Linked DNA regions of Homo sapiens. The protein of the gene in region 1 purifies or fractionates together with the protein of each later gene. This does not show direct contact. Each region holds a gene or a part of one and is shown in the gene's direction. Other genes may lie near its edges.

The links.
Region 2: the proteins of RRM1 (region 1) and ARL5B purify together in Homo sapiens (affinity purification with mass spectrometry; 2 studies listed by BioGRID and IntAct, with this or other methods). This does not show direct contact.

What each region holds. Positions count from the first base shown.
Region 1 is NC_000011.10:4,090,224-4,102,653, forward strand, and holds the start of RRM1 (ribonucleoside-diphosphate reductase large subunit), read left to right. Parts: upstream 1-4,575; 5' UTR 4,576-4,789; coding exon 4,790-4,808; intron 4,809-11,769; coding exon 11,770-11,858; intron 11,859-12,430. Other genes in the region: STIM1 (stromal interaction molecule 1 isoform 1 precursor), read left to right, coding at 1,059-1,575. UniProt on the Homo sapiens protein: Provides the precursors necessary for DNA synthesis. Catalyzes the biosynthesis of deoxyribonucleotides from the corresponding ribonucleotides.
Region 2 is NC_000010.11:18,660,687-18,672,541, forward strand, and holds part of ARL5B (ADP-ribosylation factor-like protein 5B), read left to right. Parts: intron 1-5,888; coding exon 5,889-5,949; intron 5,950-7,843; coding exon 7,844-7,991; intron 7,992-11,855.

The sequences.
Region 1 (12,430 bases):
ACAGTCTTGTAAGATAAATTGAATTGGTATTATCTTCATTAGGCCAAAGTTAAGGACTAGCAAGTTTAGATGACTTGACTTGTCCAAGATCACACAGGAGTCCAGACCTCTTCTGAACCACTGCTCTTTAAAGGCCAACATCCTGTCTTTCTATGCCTCCCTACATTCTCCGTCAGCAGAGTTCTGAAAGAGACCCCACCCTTCCTGCCGCACCACAGACTTTGGTTTGAACTCTGCAATACCTATCTATGACCTCCTTTGAATCCTATGAGATGGTTAGAAGAGGCAGCATCCTGGCCTTTTGGGGTGGGTGAAGGATTATTTGCAAGGCTGTTCTAACCTTCTCATCTCCAGCCTGGGTCAGGTCCACTGACTGCATGTGCCCTGTTCCTTGGGGCCTGGCCCAGACTGGATAATATCCTAAGGTGTGACAGGAGTAAGTGGGGAAGGAAGGCATGGAAAATGGTGACTCGGAGCAGGCTGTAGGTTCTGTGTTAGCTTGAGTCCCAGGAAATACAGCCAGCTATGAGAAGGCAGAGATTTTATTGAGGATGCCGCCTGTGGAATTTAAGCCTATGGCTGCACCAGTTCAGAGCCAGAGCATTCACCACTGGTGGGGCCCAGGTATTGGAAAACCATTTGCCAGACAGATGATGGTATGATGACATTTGTTTTTGTTTCTTATCTGTTTCTTCCCTCCCTATCACTTTTCCCTTTCTTGTCTTTCTCTCTTGGCCCTTCTTTCTACCTGCTTATCCTTTTGCTTTTCTTCCTCTACAATTCTACTCTCCTTTTCCTGTCTCTTTTCCAATCTATCCTCATTCCCTCCTCCTGCCTCCTCTCTTATCCTATACTTATGGCTGCTCAACTTCTGTCTATTCCTCTTTCCTCTCTCCTTCCCACCTGCCTGTTCATCCTATTTCTCTCTCCTGCCGCTCTATCCCCATTTTCCTACCCTGTCCTTGTCTTCTCGTGTTGTCCCTCTCTCCTCTTCGCCTTTCCCCTATCACCTCATCCAATATATGTCCCTTTCTTCCTCTCTGCCCCATGTCTTGCAGGGATTTGACCCATTCCGATTCGGAGTCCTCCCTCCACATGAGTGACCGCCAGCGTGTGGCCCCCAAACCTCCTCAGATGAGCCGTGCTGCAGACGAGGCTCTCAATGCCATGACTTCCAATGGCAGCCACCGGCTGATCGAGGGGGTCCACCCAGGGTCTCTGGTGGAGAAACTGCCTGACAGCCCTGCCCTGGCCAAGAAGGCATTACTGGCGCTGAACCATGGGCTGGACAAGGCCCACAGCCTGATGGAGCTGAGCCCCTCAGCCCCACCTGGTGGCTCTCCACATTTGGATTCTTCCCGTTCTCACAGCCCCAGCTCCCCAGACCCAGACACACCATCTCCAGTTGGGGACAGCCGAGCCCTGCAAGCCAGCCGAAACACACGCATTCCCCACCTGGCTGGCAAGAAGGCTGTGGCTGAGGAGGATAATGGCTCTATTGGCGAGGAAACAGACTCCAGCCCAGGCCGGAAGAAGTTTCCCCTCAAAATCTTTAAGAAGCCTCTTAAGAAGTAGGCAGGATGGGGTGGCAGTAAAGGGACAGCTTGTCCTTCCCTGGGTGTTCTGTCTCTCCTTCCCTCCCTTCCTTCAAGATAACTGGCCCCAAGAGTGGGGCATGGGAAGGGCTGGTCCAGGGGTCTGGGCACTGTACATACCTGCCCCCTCATCCTTGGGTCCTTCATTATTATTTATTAACTGACCACCATGGCCTGCCTGCCCTGCCTCCGTCCCAACCATGGGCTGCTGCTGTCACTCCCTCTCCACTTCAGTGCATGTCTTAGTTGCTGTTCCCTCAGCTCCCAGCTCCACCTCTGGGGTTCAGCTTCTGTCTCTGCTGTCCCAGTTTTGAGGTTTGGTTTCTTGTTTCTGTCTCTTGCTTTCGGGCTCCTCCCTCCCACCACTCCCCAACTTCCCCTAGCAGTTGCAGGGAAGATAGGACGAGTAGCTTCTGACATGTGTGCCTCAGATCTGTTCCACCCCACTCACAGTGGTTCTGTTTGCTCCAGACTGGGGCTAGGGCCTAATCTTTGAAGTTTGTTCTTTGGTATTGATGTGGGTCAGAAGGAGCCTCATCCTAATCTCACTCAGGCCTCCAGGGATCCATGGGGGAGTGAAACCAATTCTCAGAGAACAACCCACCAGAGACTTTTAAAGAGAGGCCAGGCTTGGGAATGGGTTGGGAGAGGCATCTGTTCATTGGAGCATGAGTGGATGCCAGAACTGTAGGTTATAAGGCAGTCACTTTTTCTCTCTACTCCCACCCACACCTGCCTCCCTCTTACCCCTGCTCCCCCACACTGCAGGAGGATTTGTCTCTAAGAGGTGCTGCCCCAAAGCTCCCCAAGCATCAATACTCCTAGGGCTCAGGACAAGTGGCTCCCCTGGCCAGGAGAGCCACAGCCATGATACAGGGCTCTTATGGAGCCCTGGAGTTGTTGGGCAAGGATGCTGTCATTTTTTGAACCAAAAGACAAACAGGTTAAAAGGAAAAAAAGTAATCTGAATTTCCCAAGTGCCTACGCTGCATATTCCCCTTGTTAGATCCCATTTTCATGTTACTTTGTAGCCTTGGCCAGAGGCTCAAAAAGGACACAACCAGTTTGGGGAAGGGGTGGCTAAGGAAGATGGTATAGGTGAAGGCGGCTGTGTGACCACTTTCCCCCACCCTTCCCACCCTCTAGACAACTCTCTCCCTTACCTGTTTTTGCTATGGCTGTAAAGGTATTTTTCCTCTGCCCCACTCCCTGCCATACCTTTATCCTGGGATCCTATTTTGGGCCTGGGGTGGGTATACCTGGGGCTGGTCTTAGGAGGGTGCTAGGCTGCAGACTGCCTTGTACTCCCTGGACACCCTCAAATGGGGTTTTCTGTGTTATTTCATAAAATTCTTTGAAGTCCAATAAAGCATGTAGGAGATTTTAACCACTGCTGGCTTTGACTCTCATTGTGTTCTCTGTGCTGTGGCATGATGGGATAAAGAGACAATCTTTCCTTTGCCCAGGGAAAATGAAACTTGAATGCACATGCCCAGAAGCTCTGTGGGCAGGGTTACCAGATAAATGCAGGATGACCAGTTAAATGTGAATTTCAGATAAACAGTTTTTAAAGTATAATTTTCTCTCATGCAGTATCTGGGACACATTTTTATTTGCTAAATTGGGAAACCCTATGTCTGGGTAAACTTGACCCTATCTATCCTATAACTTCACTTACGACTTTTAAAAAACATATCTATTTAATTTTTCTTTCTTTTTTTTTGTTTTTTTTGAGACGGCGTCTCACTCTCTTGCCTAGGCTAGGGTGCAATGGCGCGATCTTGGCTCACTGCAACCTCTGCCTCCAGCGTTCAAGCGATTCTTCTGCCTCAGCCTCCTGAGTAGCTGGGATTACAGGCGCGTGCTACCATGCCTGGCTACTTTTTGTATTTTTAGCAGCGGGGGGGTTTCACCACGTTGGTTAGGCTGGTCTCGAACTCCTGACCTCGTGATCTGCCCGCCTTGGCCTCCCATAGTGCTGGGATTACAGGAGTGAAGCACCGCGCTGGCCTACTTTTTCTATTTTTTGTAGAAATGGGGTCTCACTATGTTGCCCAGGCTTATCTCAACACCTGGCCTCACATGATGCTCCCGCCTTAGCCTCCCAAAATGCTGCAATTACAGGCTCACTTACGACTTTCCATGATTTTTGAAATTACTTCACAGGGAGCCTGGGCAGCTTCTGGAGGGCAGTGAGAAACCAACGAAAAGGCTTTAGGGAAAAGATGCCACAGATGAAATTTCATAAAGATCGCTTTGGGTAGCCCAAATCAGAAGCTTCTACACCAGCCTTACATATTACGGTTCTCATCTATTCTTATTCTCCACTCTAAGTCACCAAGTCCATCCTACCTCCACAAGGCAAATACCCTGTCTCTGCCACCATCCACTGAAGAACCCTAAAAGCAAATGGGTACTGACCCTGCCCTGCTTAAAATTCTCTCAGGGCTCTGATTTGCGTCAGGATAAAATCCAAACGCCATCGGCCTTGCGCGGTTTTCTTCCAGTTCCAGAGTGTCAGTCCTCTGGCCGATCTAAAAGCCCTGGGGCTCCAAGCTGCCCACGGCTGTGGAGCCTGGGCTGGAGCCCACAGCGGACGGCAGTGTTAGTATTATTATAATAAATGTCAGAGCAAGAAAAACGTTCCCGCCGGTTAGGTTTTGTTATTTCAAAAATAAATTAACCGCCTTTCCTCCGGCGGAGACGCGCAGGTGAGAGGGCGGCGCCTGACCCAGCGGGCTCTAGGTGCTACGCCAGGGCCCCGAGGGTCCCGAACTCGGCTTGCCCACACAAAACATGGTAGCAGGAGAGCAGCATTTCCGCCGGGCATGTCCATATCCAATGGGGCCCATGGGAGAGGCGTAGTCTTCTGGGTCTTGCCCAGACTCAACATGGCGGCTACACGTCGCCTGTCAGTCTGTGAAGCCTACCCCGGGCGTGGGCCGCAGCGTCGAGTAACGTCATTCGAACCCCGTCGCGCCCCTTTGTGCGTCACGGGTGGCGGGCGCGGGAAGGGGATTTGGATTGTTGCGCCTCTGCTCTGAAGAAAGTGCTGTCTGGCTCCAACTCCAGTTCTTTCCCCTGAGCAGCGCCTGGAACCTAACCCTTCCCACTCTGTCACCTTCTCGATCCCGCCGGCGCTTTAGAGCCGCAGTCCAGTCTTGGATCCTTCAGAGCCTCAGCCACTAGCTGCGATGCATGTGATCAAGCGAGGTGAGGGGGGGACGAGGTGGGCGAGAAGGAAGGTGAGGGGATGCGGGCTGCCGCCGCCGGAGCTGATGCCCAGACCGCCCGCCCGCCTTCGCTGCTTCCCGCCTTTCCCGCATTTCCCGCCGCGGCCTTCCGCCCTGTCAGCCCGCTCGGCCTTCTGTCTTCAGTCAGCCTGCCCCGAACCTCCTTCGGGCCTTCAGGCTGCGCCCCCTCGGCTTTGTCATCCTGCCGCCTTTCAAAAGGATAACACTTACCCCGTATCGAGTAGTGACTGCGTACGCCGAGCACTTGCCAGGCACTATTTTATTCCTCCCTGCAAGCCTCTGAGAGATGATTAGCTTATTACAGATGAGGAAACTGACGCTCAGAGCGAGGTGTCGCCGACTGACCCAAAGTCACCCATAGGTGACAATACGGTTTGATTTGAAAACCGTGGGGTTGGTGAGCTGTCTTAGGCACAGGGTCGGGGGGCAGCTAGGAAAGAAGGAGGGGGCCTCTCTACCCTCCGTAGGCACTTGTCAGTTTACTGATCTCTTTTGTGGGGTGAGGATAGGAGTGTGGCGTGGAAAAAACAGATCCCAGACAGACAGCACCCTCGAGTTCCTTTCCCTTCATGGGAAGAGATGCTGAATCAGAGAAGGGTGGCTGAGACATCTTCTGACAAGATGGGGACTGGGAAGAGTCAGGAACTCGTATTCTTTCTCAACAGTTCTTTTTCATTAGACTTGCCAAGTGCCCGCTTTGTGCCCAGCCCTTTGCTTGGCTTTGTGAGATTGTAGGAGGAGACAGTCCCTGCCTTGGGAACAGGCTTCATCGGGTTGGAAAAACAAGAGCAACATACTTTTAACAACCGCATGAGATACGTATGAACAAGTTTTGAGTTGAACCTACTTGCCTTTGTTAAAGCAATACAATGATTTCAAAATTGTAGGCACTTAGTAAATACTGGTTAATCGACTGGTTGTTTCTATTTTGTCCTCTAGGCTGTGAACATTTCAAAGATGGAGACTTGTTTGAGACAGAGTCTTGCTCTGTCACCCAGGATGGAATGCAGTGGTGTAATCATAGCTTACTGTAACCTTGAAGTCCTGGGCTCAAGCGATGCTCTTGCCTCAGCCTCTCAAGTAGCTGGGACTATAGGCATGCACCACCATGAGTGGCTAATTTTTAAAAATTTCTGGTAGTAAAGGAGTCTTGCTGTGTTTCCCAGTCTGGCCTTGAATTCCTGGCCTCAAACCATCCTCCCTTCCTTGGCTTCCCAAAGTGCTGGGAATACAAGCAAGATGGAGACTTTTCTGTTCACGTTTAGCACAGGACCTGACATGAACAGATTCTTAAAGAATGAATGAAAATAGTTGTATCAAAATGTAGGACACGATGAATGCTGTGAATAAGCAGGTAGTTGATTTGGTTTAACTACAGCCAATGTCCAGATTGGTTTAACTACAGACAAGAGTTGGAAAGGTGGACAGTAGTGGCCTTTCTTGTTTTTGGTATCTTGAGAACATCATTCTGTGAATTTTCCTAGCTCACATTTTAGCTGACCAAAGAGCAAAATAACATAGTGCACTTTTATTGATCCATTCATAAGAGTGAGAGCTGAGCATCTATTTTTGTATTTTTATTTTTTTACATTATTATTTATTTGTATTTTTTTAGAGAAGGAGTCTCGCTATGTTGCCCAGGCTTGTCTTGAACTCCTGGGCTCAAGCATTCTTCCCACTTCAGCCTCCCAAAGTGCTTGGATTACAGTGCTGGGAGCCACCGCACCTGGCTTGAGCATCTATTTTTTAAATCTTTAGATATGGGAGAGATGTTTAGGATGGTCTATGATAAGTCAGTAACAAAGATGAATTGAAAATGTATGGACTTAGATGACCAGAATGGGTAAAATTCAACCCTGTGTTGAATTTTGAACTTTTAGAGTCTACTTCTAAATACTTTCGTTTAAAAAGTGCTACCTTGGCCTGGCGTGGCAGGGCATGGTGGCTCACGCCTGTAATCCCAGCACTTTGGGAGGCTGAGGTGGGTGGATCATTTGAGGTGTGGAGTTTGAGACCAGCTGGGCCAACATGGTGGAACCCCGTCTCTACTAAAAACACAAAAGTTAGCCGGACGGTAGTGGTTTGCACCTGTAATCCCAGCTACTCAGGAGGCTGAGGCAGGAGAATCGCTTGAGCCTGGGAGGCAGAGGTTGCTGAAATCGTGCCATTGCACTCCAGTCTAGGCGACAGAGTGACACTCTGTCTCAAAAAAAAAAAAAAAAAAAAAAACCACAAAGTGCTAGCTATAACTAGCTCTAAAAAGCAGAGCTTATTTTCTCATTCCTTCATAGAGCACAATTTGATCCAGATGGTTCATGCTGTAGATTCTGCCATTGTAGCATTCAGCAAGACTTAATATACAACATGTACTTAGATTTGTTTGTTTCTTTTTTTTTTTATATTTCTATGTTTCTATATTTTAATGTTTTTTAATATGCATAGGGTTTTTGGTTTTCTGGACTTTTTTTGTACCCCCTTATTTTTGGCATGTCAGTGGAATAGCAGACTAACTCCTACAGTTTTTGTTAATTTTCTTTGAGATGGGGTCTTGCTCTGTCATCCAGGCTGGAGTGCAGTGGTGTGATCTCAGCTCACTGCAGTGTCTGCCTCCTGGGTTCAAGAGATTCTCCTGCCTCAGCCTCCTCAGTAGCTGGGACTACAGATGTGTGCCACCACGCCTGGCTAGTTTTTGTTATTTTTAATAACAAGGGCAACTGGAAGTTGACTTTGAAGTACCTACTGAATATGCTAATGTCTTGCTAAACACTGTGAGGGCAGTAATGGAGAAGGCAGCTCTATCTTCAAAGAACTTAAAATTGTTAGGGATTTAGGAACAATCCATATGAAAATTATTAGATAGAAGAGAATAGTAGATGAGTTTTTTTCATCTGCTATCTTGAGCTATTTTTCCTAATGGGAGAGTATCATTCCTCAAGGAGATTATGGTTAAAAAAATAAACATTGAGAACCATTGCAGTAAATGACAAAGTAGCTAACTGAGTTGTAAACTGTTTTGGAATTTAGTGTAGTATTTTCAAAACTTTGGATTGTAACTCACAGTAAAAAACAAAACATTTTACAGACATGTGTATATATGTGGATACACATAAAATGATACAAAAGTTTACGAAATAATGTCTTTGAAAGCATCCATTTGCACTCTAATCTTTCTTTTATTCCAGATTCTTTCCCTATCCCTGCCTCCCTCCCTCCCTTCCTTCCTCCCTTTCTTCCTCCCTCCCTTCCTTCCCTCCCTCCTTGCTTCCTTCCTTCCTTTCTCCCTCCCTTCTTTCCTGCCCTCCTCCCTCCCTCCCCTCCCTCTCCCCCTCCCTCCGTCCCTTCCTCCTTCCTTCCTTCCTTCCTTCCTATTCCATTCACAGCCTGCTAATATTATTTTACAACTCTGTGGATACCGTGCTGTTCACCGGGATTGCAGTGATGAGTAGGCAGACATGGTTCCAGCTTCCAAAGATCCTACAATCAATTGAGAAAGATAGACAAATAAAGAAGTAATATGATAAAATATGATAAATACTCTGATAGGTAAAGTATAGGCAGTAGAGGCCATTCATTCAGTTATTCATAAAGCATTTATTCAGCACCTCTTTGTGCTAGGAACCGTTGTAGGCATTAGAGATTCTGCAGTGAACAAAGCTAAATTACATTTCTCATTGAGTTGACTTCTTGGTGTGGGTGGGAGTGGTAAGTGTATATAAGAAATAAGAAGTAAACATAATAATCAGTTAATTTCAGATACTGATTAATGAGATGATAGTAAAACAGGATCATGTGATAAAGATGAATGAGAAAATAACCTTGGATTGGGTAGCCAGGAAAGGCTTCTCTGAGAAGCCAACATTTGAGCTGAACCCTAAATAGTATTAAGAGCTAGTAATGTGAGATCTGTGGCCTGAACATTCTCGGCAGAGGGAATTAGAAAGTTTGTATCCTGTGGAAAAGGCACGCATCCTTGGTCTTACAGGATTAGGGAAGTCTTCCTGAAGAGAGAAGAATGAAAGACAGTTTATAGCCAAGAGGAAATCACACTAGTATGCTAGAGGATTTTTTAATTTTATTTTTTATTTTTTGAGACGGAGTCTTGCTCTGTTGCCCAGGCTGGAGTGCAGTGGTGTGATCTTGGCTTACTGCAACCTCTGCTTCCCAGGTTCAGGCAATTCTGCCTCAGCCTCCCGAGTAGCTGGGATTACAGCATACCCAGCTAATTTTTTTTTTTTTTTTTTTGTATTTTTAGTAGAGATGGGGTTTCACCATATTGGCTAGACTGGTCTCGAACTCCTGACCTCAGGTGATCCGCCTGCTTTGGCCTCCCAAAGTGCTAGGAATACAGGCTGAGCCACCATGCCCTGCTGGCTAGAGGATTTTAAAAGAGGAAAAGGTCAGTGTGAGTTAAAAGTGGTTGAGGCAGGTTTTATGGAGGTGTGAGATTTGGAGGGTGAGTAGGAGTTAGATGTATGGAAAGGTGGAAGAGGAACCTTTAGGCAGAGTAAGGTATAAGCAATGATGTGGATATGGGAATGGGAAGCCCTCTTGGGACTTATATTTCACAGGGAACAGTTGAAGAGATCTGGGGCCAAACTAAGAAAGGCTTTGCTTGAGAGAAGAGGATAATGTAGGCAGTGAGAAGCAGGGATTAGTGATGTGATAAAATCAACATCTGGCTTGAAAAACTAACCAAGTGGAATGACAGAATAGAGAACTGTGTGTCATTGGACCTTTAGATCTTTAGTCTGCCTCCTATTTTCAAGTGTGAGTTAAGATAATTACCAATGCACTTTTTTTTTTTTGTCAGTTTCCTGATTGACTTCAGAACTTCTGGCAGTTGTAGAATTTTCTTTTTGCTAAGTTGCTTTCCCCCCCCACTGCATGTATAATTGCAGAACGCTAATGTTGCTTTGCAGTTACCTGCCTGCTTAGTTATCCAATTGCTAGAGCACTGAGGTTTCAGTCCCAGTGCCAGCCAGTTAATTTACCCCATTTCAGAGTTAAATGCTGCAGATGTGAGCCTGATGAGAAAATTATCACAATGGTGATCAGAAAGAGAGGGGCTAACATATCAGTGTAGAAGAAAAAGCAACTTGTTCTAGTGATAATGGGTTAATAGTGATGTCTTATTGTTCATTTATTCTTCATCAAATGTTTGAGAACTTGCCTTGTTCTAGGCACTAAATTTGAGAATACAGATGTGAATCAGAGGGCCAAATAAATGTAAACATATTTAGCATGTTTCTTATTGGTTACTTCAGGTTGAGTATCCCTTATTCAAAATGCTTGGGCCCAGAAGTGTTTCGGATTTTGGATTTGTTTCAGATTTTGGAATATTCGCATTATACTTACTGGTTGGGCATCCCTAATCAGAAAATCCAAAATCTGAAATGGTCCAAGGAACATTTTCTTTGAACATTGTGTTGGCATTGAAAAAGTTTTGGATTTTGGAGTGTTTTGGATTTTGGAATTTTGGATTAAGGATACTCAGCCTATAGTTACAATGGATTGTAGGTGCACAAAAGAGACAAAAACTAAATCAGTGTGAGACACTAACATTTATTGAGTGCCTATTGTGTATCACATACTGTGATTTTTTTTTCCCCCATAGGAGCAGCTTTATTTTATAACGAGGTATAGTTGTAACTATGCCAAAGTTGTTACAACAAAAGCACTTTTTACCTTATCTAATTTTATTGTCACAGTAAACTGATTAGGCAAGTAAAATAGATATAATAATTAACCCCTTTCTACAAATGAAGATCTGTGAAATGACTGATTGTGTTTTGTGGCTTGTCTAAGGTTAAGGCTGTTTGGTGGTTGGATATATTCACTATTCCTGGTAAGAATAAATAAAGGTCGGATGAGCTACTATTTGAGGTTAAACTAAGAGTAGTAAGACTTTTTTGTCTAGAAGGACAAAGATATAATCTAAGTCCAAAATCATGAAAAATATTAGGTAAAATATATAGTATGTCAGATGGGGTAAGTGCAATGGAGAAAAAGCACAGAAGGGGAAGGGGGATAAGAAGAGCAAGGGTCCTATTTGGGGCATTGCAATTTAAAATGGAATCATCAGGGAAAGCCACATTGAGAAGGTGATGACATTGAGCAAAAGACCTAAAGGAGATATATAGCAAGAAGGCCAAGTTGTCAAGGTACAATAGGAAGGAAGGTGGGAGAGTTGGAGGTGAAATTGGGAAGTGGGTGCACAGGACAAGTGGTATAGGATTCTGTGGATTTTTTTTTTTTTTTAGTTGGAGTTTCATTCTTGTTGTCCAGGCTGGAATGCAATGGCGTGATCTCAGCTCACTGCAACCTCCGCCTCCTGGGTTCAAACAATTCTCCTGCCTTAGCCTCCCGAATAGCTGGGATTATAGGCCCCTGCCACCATGCCCAGCTAATTTTTTGTATTTTTAGTAGAGACGGGGTTTCACCATATTGATCAGGCTGATCTCGAACTCCTGACCTCCAGTGATCCACACCCCCCCCCGCTCCCTTGGCCTCCCAAAGTGCTGGGATTACAGGTGTGAGCCACTAGGCCTGGCCTGTGGATTGTTATAACAATTTTGACTTTTATTCTGGAGATCATAAGCCACTATTAGGAGTTTTGAAGGAGGTAATGATATGATTCTGAGTTTAACTTTTAAAGGGTAATTTTGGCTGCCATGTGGGATGGGGGAAAAATTTAGGAAATTATCCGTAAACGTCTGTCTGTATAGAATTCATACTCTTTGAAGGTGACATCAGAGAAGACAATCTCTTCATGAATCTTTTGAGGGGGCCTCAATCTTTTCTGTGAAATAGCACTTCATGTTGGTCAATTTACATGTTAATTACATTTGATTCTTTGACATTGTAGTCTTAATAATTGCTAACATGAATTTAATAATTGCTAACATGATTTGATTCTTTAGATGGCCGCCAAGAACGAGTCATGTTTGACAAAATTACATCTCGAATCCAGAAGCTTTGTTATGGACTCAATATGGATTTTGTTGATCCTGTAAGTAAATATGGTTTTTATCTTGGGTTCCTTCTTTCATGTGTTTCTTTCCATTTGTCTCTTATCCCTGGACCTTCATTCACCTGATATACTTTGGTATTCTGGCTATGCCCTTCGATATAAAATTTGAATTCATTGCTTAAAACATTTTTTTTTCCTTAATTTTGGTTCTGTCCTGTGAGTTCTCACTTTTCAGAGAACTATGAATGTGAGTAAAGAGGAAAATTTGATATTAACATTTAATATCAGATATTTCCTTGAGTAAATTGTTTTATTCATTAGTGGAAAAGCCTAGGCCAGGCGCCGTGGCTCACGCCTGTAATCCCAGCACTTTGGGAGGCTGAGGTGGGCAGATCACCTGAGGTCAGGAGTTCAAGACCAGCCTGGCCAACATGGTGAAACCCCGTCTCTACTAAAAATGCAAAAATTAGCCGGGCCTGGTGGTGGGCGCCTGTAATCCCAGCTACTTGGGAGGCAGGAGAATCACTTGAACCTGGGAGGCAGAGGTTGCAGTGAGCCGAGATCGTGCCACTGCACTCCAGCCTGGGCGACAGAGCGAGACTCCCTCTCAA
Region 2 (11,855 bases), on another chromosome or scaffold:
GTCTTTTTCAAGGTTATAAATATAGATACAGGCACACACATGTGTATATATATGTATATGCCTGTATCCAGTAACCACAGATAATATTACTTATCAAATGATTTCAAAGTGAGCAGAGCTTCACACTTTGTGGGTATTATCCATACATTTAAAATATTATTTTTATTTATTTATTTTTTGAGGCAGAGTCTTTCTCTGTCGCCCAGGCTTCAGTGCAGTGGCGCAATCTCAGCTCACTGCAACCTCTGCATCCTGGGTTCAAGCGATTCTTGTTCCTCAGCCTCCCGAGTAACTGGTATTTACAGGCACCCGCCACCACGCCCGGCCTATTTTTGTATCTTTAGTAGAGACAGGGTTTCGCCATGTTGGGCAGGCTGGTCTCGACCTTCTGACTTCAGGTGATCTACCCACCTCGGCCTCCCAAAGTGCTGGAATTACAGGTGTGAGCCACCGCGCCCAGCGGTAAAACAGCATTTTAAGACATGCTTAAAGGTATAAAGATTAATACAAAAATCACCAGTTTTCTCTTTCCCCTGAGCTGGAGAATCGAAACGTTACCGAAGTAGTTGGTTTTCCCTTTATATCCTTTCCCGTTTTCCTTTCTCCCTTTTCTGTTACATGGCTGCTGTCTTGTCTTTTTTCGTTGGAGGTGTCCTTACTCAGACTAGAGGTAATAAAAGATGTAAGGGGAAAATGTAGATGGTGATGAAAGACATCCAGTGGCTACTTTTATACTCGCATAATTGTTCAGGCCTCCTGAATCTCCATTTCTACTTAGAATTTTTCTCTTCCTCTAACTTTCCTGTTGGAAAATTTAGAACCAGTGATTATTCTGTTATTTTATTCTTATTCATTCATACAGCCATAGGCCAGTCTTCAGAGTTTAGCATAGGAGATACAAAATTAAAGAATAAAGATACCTTACTTCTTGGCAAAGTATTCAAACATCAATAAACGAGACAAACATGAAAAAAAATGCAGTGTGGTAAATTATTTAACAGATATGTGTAAAAATATAACGTTGGCTGCAGCACAAGGTATACTTGGACGTAATGTAATGATGAGTAGGAATTTGGGTGGCATGCTAGACAGACCGAATAGAAGGGACGTGTTATTCTAGGCAGAAGAGCTAATATGCAAAAGGGAGAGGAATGAGCTAGTTTGGTACTTTTAGGGAAGCTGAAAATAGTTGAGCTTGGCTGTGTGTTAGTTTGCTTGCGAGGAGTGAAGAGGAGATGAGATTGGAAAGACAACCAGGAGAACCTTATCACAGAGGGCCTCCAGTGTTGACTAAGACATTAAACTCTCTAGAGCAAGGAATGGGACTCACTGAAGGGTTTAATCCACAGATGTATCTTAGCCTATATTTTTGTTTTCTGCATCAACAAAATTAACTACCAATCTCAGCATTTTCCATTTTTGTAACTATATTTATCTATTCCAGTGGAATTAGATATATTAGAATAACAGGCCCAAAGCGCCACCTCACACCAACTAAATTAGATTGGGGTGAAGAGGCCTGGGCATCACTGCCAAGGTAAATCGAATGTGCAGCCAGTGTTAAGAACTACTGATCTTACTTTATGTGCTCCTTTCCCGTGTCTTTCTTCCAGTATTTCCACATTCTCATCCTTTTTTTTCCTGTAGCATTTTAGAGTCTCATGCGTCTTATAAATTAGATACCTTTCTGTGAATAAGTATACTAAAGCGTGTGTTGTCTAAGTAAAGCAATGTAAAAGTTAATTCCTGCAATTTTGTATTGTTTGAACTGGAAGCCTGTTTACTTCGACAGTTATTATTCAAGGAAATAATTTGGAATTCTGATTATCTCTGCAAACATTTTATATGTTAATGTAGTTCTGTGAAATACATATGTGTTATGTGTGTTTGATAGCTCACCTCTAAAGTTTTGCATTGTTTTTTAAATTTCTTTTGAACTTTTGTAGGCATAGTCTTTTTCTCTCAGTGTTATGATTGTGGAAACCTGTCATCAGTTATTTCTTTTTTTGTTGTTTGTTTGTTTTTTTTTTTTAATGAGATGGAGTCTCACTCTGTCACCCAGGCTGGAGTGCAGTGGTGCGATCTCGGTCCACTGCAACCTCCATCTCCTGGGTTCAAGCAATTCTCCTGCCTCAGCCTCCTGAGTAGTTGGGATTACAGGCGCACACCACCACTCCGGCTAATTTTTGTATTTTTAGTAGAGGTGGGGTTTCACCATGTTGGTCAGGCTGGTTTTGAACTCCTGACCTCAGGTAATCCGCCCGCCTTGGCCTCCCAAAGTGCTAGGATTACAGACGTGAACCACTATGCCTGGCCCAGTGATGTCTTTAAATTTTATTTATTATTGTTATATTTTCTGTCACCCAGGCTGGAGTGTAGTCCTGTGATCTCAGCTCACTGCCACCTTTGCCTCCCAAGTTCAAGCAATTCTCCTGCCCCACCCTCTGGAGTAGATGGGATTACAAGCACCTGCCACCATGCCTGGCTAATTTTCGTATTTGTAGTAGAGATGGATTTTACCATGTTGGCTAGGCTGGCCTCGAACTCCTGACCTCAGGTGATCTACTCGCCTCCCAAAGTGCTGGGATTACAGGCGTGAGCCACTGCACCTGGCCAGTTATTTCTAGTGTTACCCAGAATTAAGAACAAATGAAATACAGTTTTAATTGTAGTTCTTTTTCAGAACCATGTAACAGTAACATCTTAATTTCATAATTTAATCATTTCTTTCCAATCCATGAATTTCATGTTATCATTTTGAACACTGGTTGCCAATTGCGTATGATTATTGTCCTTTACTTCTGACTGCTCAGATCTCAGATCTTGTGGCTCACATTTCTCTCTTTAGCTTATTCTGCTCTTTTTTTTTTTTTTTTTTTTGAGATGGAGTCTCTCTCTGTCGCCCAGGCTGGAGTGCAGTGGCGTTATCTCGGCTCACTGCAAGCTCTGCCTCCCGGGTTCATGCCATTCTCCTGCCTCAGCCTCCCAAGTAGCTGGGACTACAGGTGTCTGCCACCACGCCCGGCTGATTTTCTGTATTTTTAGTAGAGACGGGGTTTCACCATGTTAGCTAGGATGGTCTCGATCTCCTGACCTTGTGATCCTCCCACCTCGGCCTCCCAAAGTGCTGGGATTACAGGTGTGAGCTACTGCGCCCGGCCCCAGCTTATTCTGCTCTTAACTCTGGACTGTAAGCAGGTTTCAAACACACTAAACTTAAACTTATCATCTATCTGCATCCTGTCTTCCAGACCATTCTTTGTTTTTGTTTTGTTTTGTTTTGTTTGAGACGGAGTGTTGCTCTGTCACCAGGCTGGAGTGCAGTGGTGCAATCTCAGCTCACTGCCACCTCTGCCTCCCAGGTTCAAGTGATTCTCCTGCCTCAGCCTCCCAAGTAACTAGGACTATAGGCACCTGCCACCATGCCCGGCTAAGTTTTGTATTTTTAGTAGAGACGGAGTTTCACCAAATTAGCCAGGTTGGTCTTGAACTCCTGACCTTGTGGTCTGCCCACCTCAGCCTACTGAAGTGCTGGGATTACAGGTGTGAGCCACCATGCCTGACCTGGCTAACTTTTTTCTTAAGAGATGGGATATTACTGTATTGCCCAGTTTGGTCTCAAACTCCTAGATTTAACTGATCACTTCTCCTTGGCCTCCCAAAGTGTTGGAATTACAGGTGTGAGTCATTGCACCTGGCCTAAAACATTCTGATTTACTGTAACTGATAGTAACAGTAGTGTCTTTTTTTTTTTTTTTTTTTTTTTTTTGAGATGGAGTCTCGCTCTGTTGCCCAGGCTGGAGCACAGTGACCCGATCTCGGCTCACCGCAAGCTCCGTCTTCCGGGTTCATGCCATTCTTCTGCTTCAACCTCCCAAGTAGCTGGGACTACAGGCACCCGCCACCATGCCCGGCTAATTTTTTTGTATTTTTTGTAGAGACAGGGTTTCACCGTGTTAGCCAGGATGGTCTTGATCTCCTGACCTCGTGATCCTCCCACCTCGGCCTCCCAAAGTGCTAAGATTACAGGCGTAAGGCACCACGCCTGGCCTAACAGTAGTGTCTTAACCTAACATTTCCTCATGTTAGGGACCTACCTTTCAAAATGGTGCATTATTGGTGAGTTTTACCATCACAGGCCTTCAGTATTATGTGAAGCATCATAGTGCAAAAGTGAAGCAAGGAGCAGGATTGTTTGCAAATGACCTGGGTCTTCATTTGAGTTGCTTCAAGAAGGAGCCATCTGGTACTGTCCTTCCATTCCTTTCTCCCAACAGGATTATCTGCCTTCAAGTTTTGCTTATCTTTAAACTAGTGGCTTCCTTCTCACCACTGCAGGCATGTTGTTTTCTGTAGATGCTTGGTAGGTGGAGCTTCTAGCTGTCACCAAAATTTAGAATGCTTAGTGCCAGGCAGTCTGTTTGTTCCTCACTGATAAAGGTTCTTGTACTTTAAGGGATAACAAACAGGGTAATACTTAAAGATTAGCTTCATTAGAGGACATGTAGCCAAGCTTGGTGGTGTGCACCTGTGGTCCCAGCTATTCAGGAGGTTCAGGTAGGAGGATCACTTGAGCCTGGGAGGTCGAGGCTGCAGTGATCATGCCCCTGCACTCCAGCCTGGGCAACAAAGCAAGACCCTGTCTCAAATAAATAAGGAGAATTATAGTGAGTTATACTAAGCAGGCAAGTTTTGTTTTGTTTTACAAAGCAGCTTCTACCATAGTGAAAATAGCCCTTCCAGAGGACCGTGTCTGTTTATCCTGCACTGTAATAGGCTGTATCTAGAGTGTGTAGGTCATTGGAAGACCTGCACATCTCAAGAACTTAAATTTTCTTGGTCCCTCTTTTTTTGGCTGATGAAGTTTAGAACTTCAGAGTAGGAATATGAGCTGATAGTTGATTATATGACCAGAATGTTGACATTCACCAGAGGTCATCAAGAAGAGCGGGATTCTGATATGAGATGTGCCCAATCGTTGCCTACAAATCAACTGTGTTGTGATTCTGTGGAAACTTCCCTACTTACCCTGTTGATGTTAACTTGTAACTTTTTAAGCATTCTTCTGCCTTGGAGAAGGGGATCTTTAGTATACTTGGCATAAGTGAAAATCTAGGAAAGATGGTATCTGGGTTGTTTTCTGTATTCAAAGGACATTGCAGAATATATACCACTTAACGGAATAATTAGATGAGCTTTAGCAACTACTTATTAAAAGAGGTGAATATTTAGTGCATGGCACCCAAAGGAGGAAAGAACTGAAGAGATTTTCATTGTACAAAGAGCAGAAACAGAATCTGCTCAAAAGAACTGTAGAAGCCGGTTGAAAAAATGTTAAACAATGAGTAATTGTGTAAAAACTTGAGAGTATATGTTTGTCTTTGTGACACATGAAACGTTTCAATTTTAAGCTTACATGGGATTTTTAAGTGAGAGGAAGAAACAGATCCTGGTATACATAGGTGGGGAAACTTACAGATATGAAAACATTTTGATAAAAAGCTAACTTGATTGGTACAGAGCTAAAAAGGTGTGTAAAACAGGCTTTTTAAAAAACTTACATTTAGGTTATAATTTTTGCCTAGATTAATATTTGGGTCTCCTCTCCCCTAGATGCAATATAAGTGACCAACTTTGCTGGTGTTTCCTGCCTACCCATCTCCCACATTCTTTTACATGAGAACTAGACAGAGAATCAATGATAATTGATTTTGTTACTTAACCTAGGTAGCCTTAACATCATAACATTTCTTTCTGCATTTTAAGTCTAGTGATAGATATTCAGTGAATGATTCTCATTAATGAGCTAACTAATAATCATTGTTGAAAGCATGTAATTGCAGTAATGCAGTAGTGTTAAATGTTTATGATTTGCTTTCTTTTTGTAGAACACAAAGTAATTATAGTGGGACTGGATAATGCAGGGAAAACCACCATTCTTTACCAATTGTAAGTATGGGTGTTTATTAAACAGTTTTCACTAGTTATTGAAACTAATGTGTTTACAATTAATAAGAGATGCATTATAATAATGACGGAAAAACTTAAATATATGTTTTTTGTTTTTTGTTTTTTTAATTTTACCGAACACAATCTATAGAAAAGTGAGTGAAATAAACATTTGCTAAACCCTTCACAAACACTTATTGTTTTCTGCCCTCGAAAGAAAGAAATTAATATTAAATAAATAAAGCGCATATTAGAAGTGCTGGGGTGAGGTGATAAAGTGGATTTCACTTAGTTCTTACCCCACTTGGGTTTATGTAAATAAATTGATAGCTCTAGGAAGCCATTGCTACCCTCCTGACTAATAGCTTTGGAATTTTTTAACATAGCCAGACTTGTCAAAAGAAATGTGATCACTCCTGAAAATATTGCTGTAGTAGCTTGCAAGAGGGAGAGTCTTGAGACTTTCAGAGAAATCTGTTAATACCTTAGGAAATTTTCACAGCTCATCATTCCACTTGTCAGAGTACCTTCCATTATCCTTTCAATGCCAATGAAATGATAGTATTAAGCAGTAGAAGTGGATCTACCAGGCACTTTAACAAAATAGTTCTACAGTTCTTTGCCCCATTGTGTGGCTCTTACCTCTTCCCACTCATGTTGCATTAGAAGACAGCCATCAGCTCACCAGAAGTACTTCATTAGCCAGTGATTAACGCATTTTTCAGCTACTTTGCTAAAAAGCTACTGACTTAAAGTTTGTTGTTTCAGAGTTGAACAACTACTTGTTTCTCTTGAAAACATTTTCATTCATTGGTGATTATGTGTTTAAATATGAATTAGCTTTTAAACATCACATATAAACATTTCAGAAACCTGTCATCTTTGTTGAAATAATTTTACACATGGCTTCAAAAATATACATAAAACCCAAGAGAATTGCAAGCCTCCTCCAACACAGTAGTGACATGTTACTGGCAAGGGCATATTTGTTGAATTAATTGATTAATGTAGCTTTACCAATGATTATGATAATACGAGGGGTATGAGCATCAGTATTCTAAATATATATATATATATATACACACACACACAAACACACACACACACATATTTGAGACAGAGTTTTGCTCTGTTTCTAAGGGTGGAGTGCAATGGCGTGATCTCCACCTCCCAGGTTCAGGCGGTTCTCCTGCCTCAGCTTCCAGAGTAGCTGGGATTACAAGCGCCCACCACCACGCCCTGCAAATTTTTGTATTTTTAGTAGAGACGAGGCTTCACCATGTTGGTCAGGATGGTCTCAAGTTCTTGACCTCAGGTGATCCACCCAAAGTGCTAGAATTATAGGTGTGAGCCACCACACCTGGCCTTCTAAATATATCTATAGTTAATTTAAATTTTTACTTGCCCATGGTCATCTTTTTAGGACTACTTTAGATTAATATGCCTGAATTAATTTTTGTGACTAAGTCTCAATTTAGACAGTCTTCAAAATTATAGATAGCCTGCTATCCAATATTTGCTATTTTGCAATCACCTAGAAACTTGCTTTTCAGGATGGCATGGGACATTGGGTCTTATCTAACTGATAACAGGGCATGGTGGTATTGGAATTTTTGGCCACAGAAATGCAAATTCACACCACACTGTTTCCTTTCTTTTCCATCAAGCTTGCAATTCCTTCCGTTAAAAAAAAAAACAAACAAGAAACAAGTCTTTCTTCTGGAGTTGTTATCTAGATATTGATTTGCGCAAGTGTTCTCCAGGTTTATAATTTTCATGCTAATGATCACCATCATTGGTGCAGAAGGTTGATTGATCTTAAAAATACAGAGATAAAAGTTGCTTCAGATTCTCAAGATTTACAAGAGCTTTTACGGTGTCTGTTTTTCAACAGCTTAATGAATGAAGTGGTTCATACTTCTCCAACCATAGGAAGCAATGTTGAAGAAATAGTTGTGAAGAACACTCATTTTCTTATGTGGGATATTGGTGGTCAGGAGTCTCTGCGATCATCCTGGAACACATATTACTCAAATACAGAGGTATGCTAAGATGAATTTTGAATTTTAATCCAAAGGTCCCTAGAGTAAACATAGAAAGTAATTAGGCTGCACCTGGGCGTATTGACAGTTGCCTTTTTTTTTTTTTTTTTTAAGACGGAGTCTTGCTCTGTCGCCAGGCTAGAGTGCAGTGGAGTGATCTTGGCTCGCTGCAAGCTCCGCCTGCTGAGTTCAAGCCATTCTCCTGCCTCAGCCTCCCAAATAGCAGGAATTACAGGCGAGTGCCACCACACCCGGCTAATTTTTGTATGTTTAGTAGAGACCGGGGTTTCACCATATTGATCAGGTTGGTCTTGAATTCGGGACCTCGTGATCCACCCTCCTTGGCCTCCCAAAGTGCTGGGATTACAGGCTTGAGCCACCGTGGCCGGCCTTTTAATAAGATCCTTTTTTGTAGGGAATTTGGGTTTCCTTTTTTTAAAAAATAAATAAATAAAAATTTCATAAATGAGACTTAAGAATTTGGGTTTTCGAATAAAAGAAAAGGCAAATAGAAAGATTGTTTGGAGCTATTATTACTTGAGTGCTTACTGTTTGGCCAGGTTCTCTCCATTCATCTTCACAAGATTTTCATGTCTCCAGGGTTGGAGAGATCTGACACGTGGAGATATTATGTAGGTTTCCCCAAGATCTCACAACTTTCTAAGAGACCCTGACCGGTGGAGGAATAAAATATTTTATTAATTTAAAAATTTTTTATACCATGAACATTCAAAATGTTGGTAGATTTTTTTTTAATTAGAAAAAAGTAGATTTGCAAATCATCTCTCAAAGTTCTCTGCCACTTATGAGTTCAGAGCTAACTTGGGGAACAAACCTGGATATATTCATGTTCTATTTCTGCTTTTATTTCTTATTAGAGGCAGATTTTTTTAAAAGCCATTCAATGTAGTTTAGAGAGATTTATCCTTGATAGTATGATTTCACAATTGCATCCATTTAATTGTTCTTTGCAAAGAAGTACACCTAACCAATTATTTTTTTCTAAAATGAAACCTTTTAAAAATTGGAGTTGGGCCAGACACGGTGGCTCACGCCTGTAATCCCAGCACTTTGGGAGGCCGAGGCGGGTGGATCATGAGGTCAGGAGATTGAGGCCATCCTGGCTAACACAGGTGAAACCCCGTCTCTACTAAAAATACAAAAAACTAGCCGGGCGTGGTGGGGCAGACTTGTAGTCCCCAGCTACTCAGGAGGCTGAGGCAGGAGAATCGCTTGAACCCAGGAGGCAGAGTTTGCAGTGAGCCGAGGTGGCACCACTGCACTCCAGCCTGGGTGACAAAACGAGACTCTTATCTCAAAAAAAAAAAAAAAAAAAATTGGAGTTGGAAGGGAAGAGGTAGAAAAGGATATAATATGAATAATTTTTGGTGAACAAAGTTGCCTCTTTAAAAAACATGTATTGTTCTAGATTTATATTATAATAGCATGTGTGTATGTGTGTATATATTCCAATGCAACGTGTAAGTAAACAAAGATGGCGTATCATAGATAATCAGAACTTGTGGTAGCACTGAATTATTTTATTGGGTATGCAGAAGCTGTAAGCAAATAATATAGTTAAAGGGTAGCTTATACATTTATACAGTAAAATAATGTTCTGAAACTAGAATAAGTTAGAAAGTAAGGGAAGGGCCAGGCGCAGTGGCTCACTTCTGTAATCCCAGCACTTTGGTAGGCCGAGGTGGGCAGATTGCTTGAGGCCAGGAGTTCAAGACCAGCATGGCCAACATGGCAAAACCCCATCTCTACTAAAAATACAAAAATTAGCCAGGCATGGTGGCATGTGCCTGTAGTCCCAGCTACTCCAGAGGCTGAGGCATGAGAATCGCTTGAACCTGGGAGGCGGAGGTGGCAGTGAGCTGAGATAGCACCACTGCACTCCAGCCTGGGTGGCAGAGTCTCGCTCTCTCTCAAAAAAAAAGAAAAGAAAGTAAGGGACAAATGACATTGTAGCATATGATTAATTTAAACATCAGAGCTGTTAGTAGTTTTAAGCTCACAGTTAACTCCAGCTGTGAAAAGGGCAGTTATCATTGATGAATAGGTCAAAGTTGATTCTAGTGAATCCATATGTACTTAAAGTGTGTCGAAAGGGTAGTTCTTGAAGTGACTGAAACTCTGGAGGACTTAGCATGGGTCCAGAAAGAGATATCCATTACTGATGCCATTTGCATGAAACGTTCTTTTAATAAGTGATCTCTACAAGAATATCAAAATTACTACAAAGAACAGTGGCGCCTGTCACTTTGCATTTTGAAAATTCTTCACGTGGAAGAGTCCCCCAAAAGCGGTAGTATGTCCATTATAATACAAGAAGTTACAGGTATTAAGTAATTATTGACACCTTCCTCTCATTAACTCACAGTTGTTTCCCATATTCTGTTGATTCCTCCTTTGCCACGCGACATTCTTTCCGTTTATTCCCTTCTAAGCCCAACTCAGTTTATATTCAGATTAGTTGTCTGTTTCCCTAATTTTATTTATTTTTGTTTTTTATTTATTTATTTTTTTGAGATGGAGTCTCAGTCTGTCACCCAGGCTGGAGAGCAGTGCAGCCTCCGCCTCCCAGGTTCAAAGGATTCTCCTCCCTCAGCCTCCGAAGTAGCAGGGACTACAGTACACACCACCACACCTGGCTGATTTTTGTGTTTTTAATAGAGACAGGGTTTCACCATGTTGGCCAGGTTGGTCTTGAACTGTCCTCAAGTGATATGCCCACCTCGGCCTACCAAAGTGCTGGGATTACAGGTGTGAGCCACTGCACCTAGCCTGTTTCCCTAATTTTAAAGTCATCTCTGTAATCTAATTCTACCCTTCATGTCTCAGTTTATTTTGCATCTATCTCCTGCTGTAATAACATCATTTCATCTCATTTCTTAACTTTTTATTCTGTATACAGTGTTCAGCTTAAGGGTGCTTTTTCGCTGTATCATCTCCTCCATCTCCTCCTCCTCCTCCCCCTCACCCACCCCCCACATTTTTTAAAAAATGAGTTAGGGCCTCTCTCTCACCCAGGCTGGAGTGTAGTTGCATGATTCTCAGTACAGCCTCAACTTCCTAGGCTCAAAGCAGTCCTCCCACCTTAGCCTCCCAAGTAGGTGGGACTATGTGCATGGCTAATTTTTATTTTTTGTAGAGAGACAGGTTCTCACTATGTTGCCCAAGCTAGTCTCAAACTCCTGGGCTCAAGCAGTCATCCCACCTCACCTCCCAGAGTGCTGGGATTATATGTGTGTGAGCCACAATGCCTGGCCTATATCTTCTTATTTTTTAATATGCAAACTCCCTTTTTTCATGTATAGCTTTACCAACAGATTTCTCCTCTTTTTTCTGGTGTCTTGCCTTTATTTAATTTCACCTGAATCTCCAGTATATAATGCCTAAGTATATATGTTTCAATCTGGAGCATTTATGGTGGATACTGTTTTATAAAATTGTCTTATTTTTAAAATGCATTTATCTTTTTCTTTCAAACTAGCTTTTCTTTCTAAGAGTTAGGAGATTGTGGTATACACAAGTAAGCAATTATTGACTGTTTAGATGAATGATAATGGAGTACTTTGAAGTTTTAGTGAAAAATATTATTGAAATTAGTGTAAGTTTCTTTTCAAAAATTGCTTTTTACTACCAGCATTTGAAAACAAATCATAGTATTATGTATTCGGGCATCACTTAAAATAAAACAAGTGGGGCACAGTTTTTATTTGTTGAAGCTATGAGTTATTTTCTTACTGTTAACATTTGGATTTTACTGCTTGATGTGGTTCAGTATTATAAAAGCTGTTTATGGTGAAAAAGCAGTAGATGTTTTATAGTAATGATGATGCCATGTAGAGAAAGTAC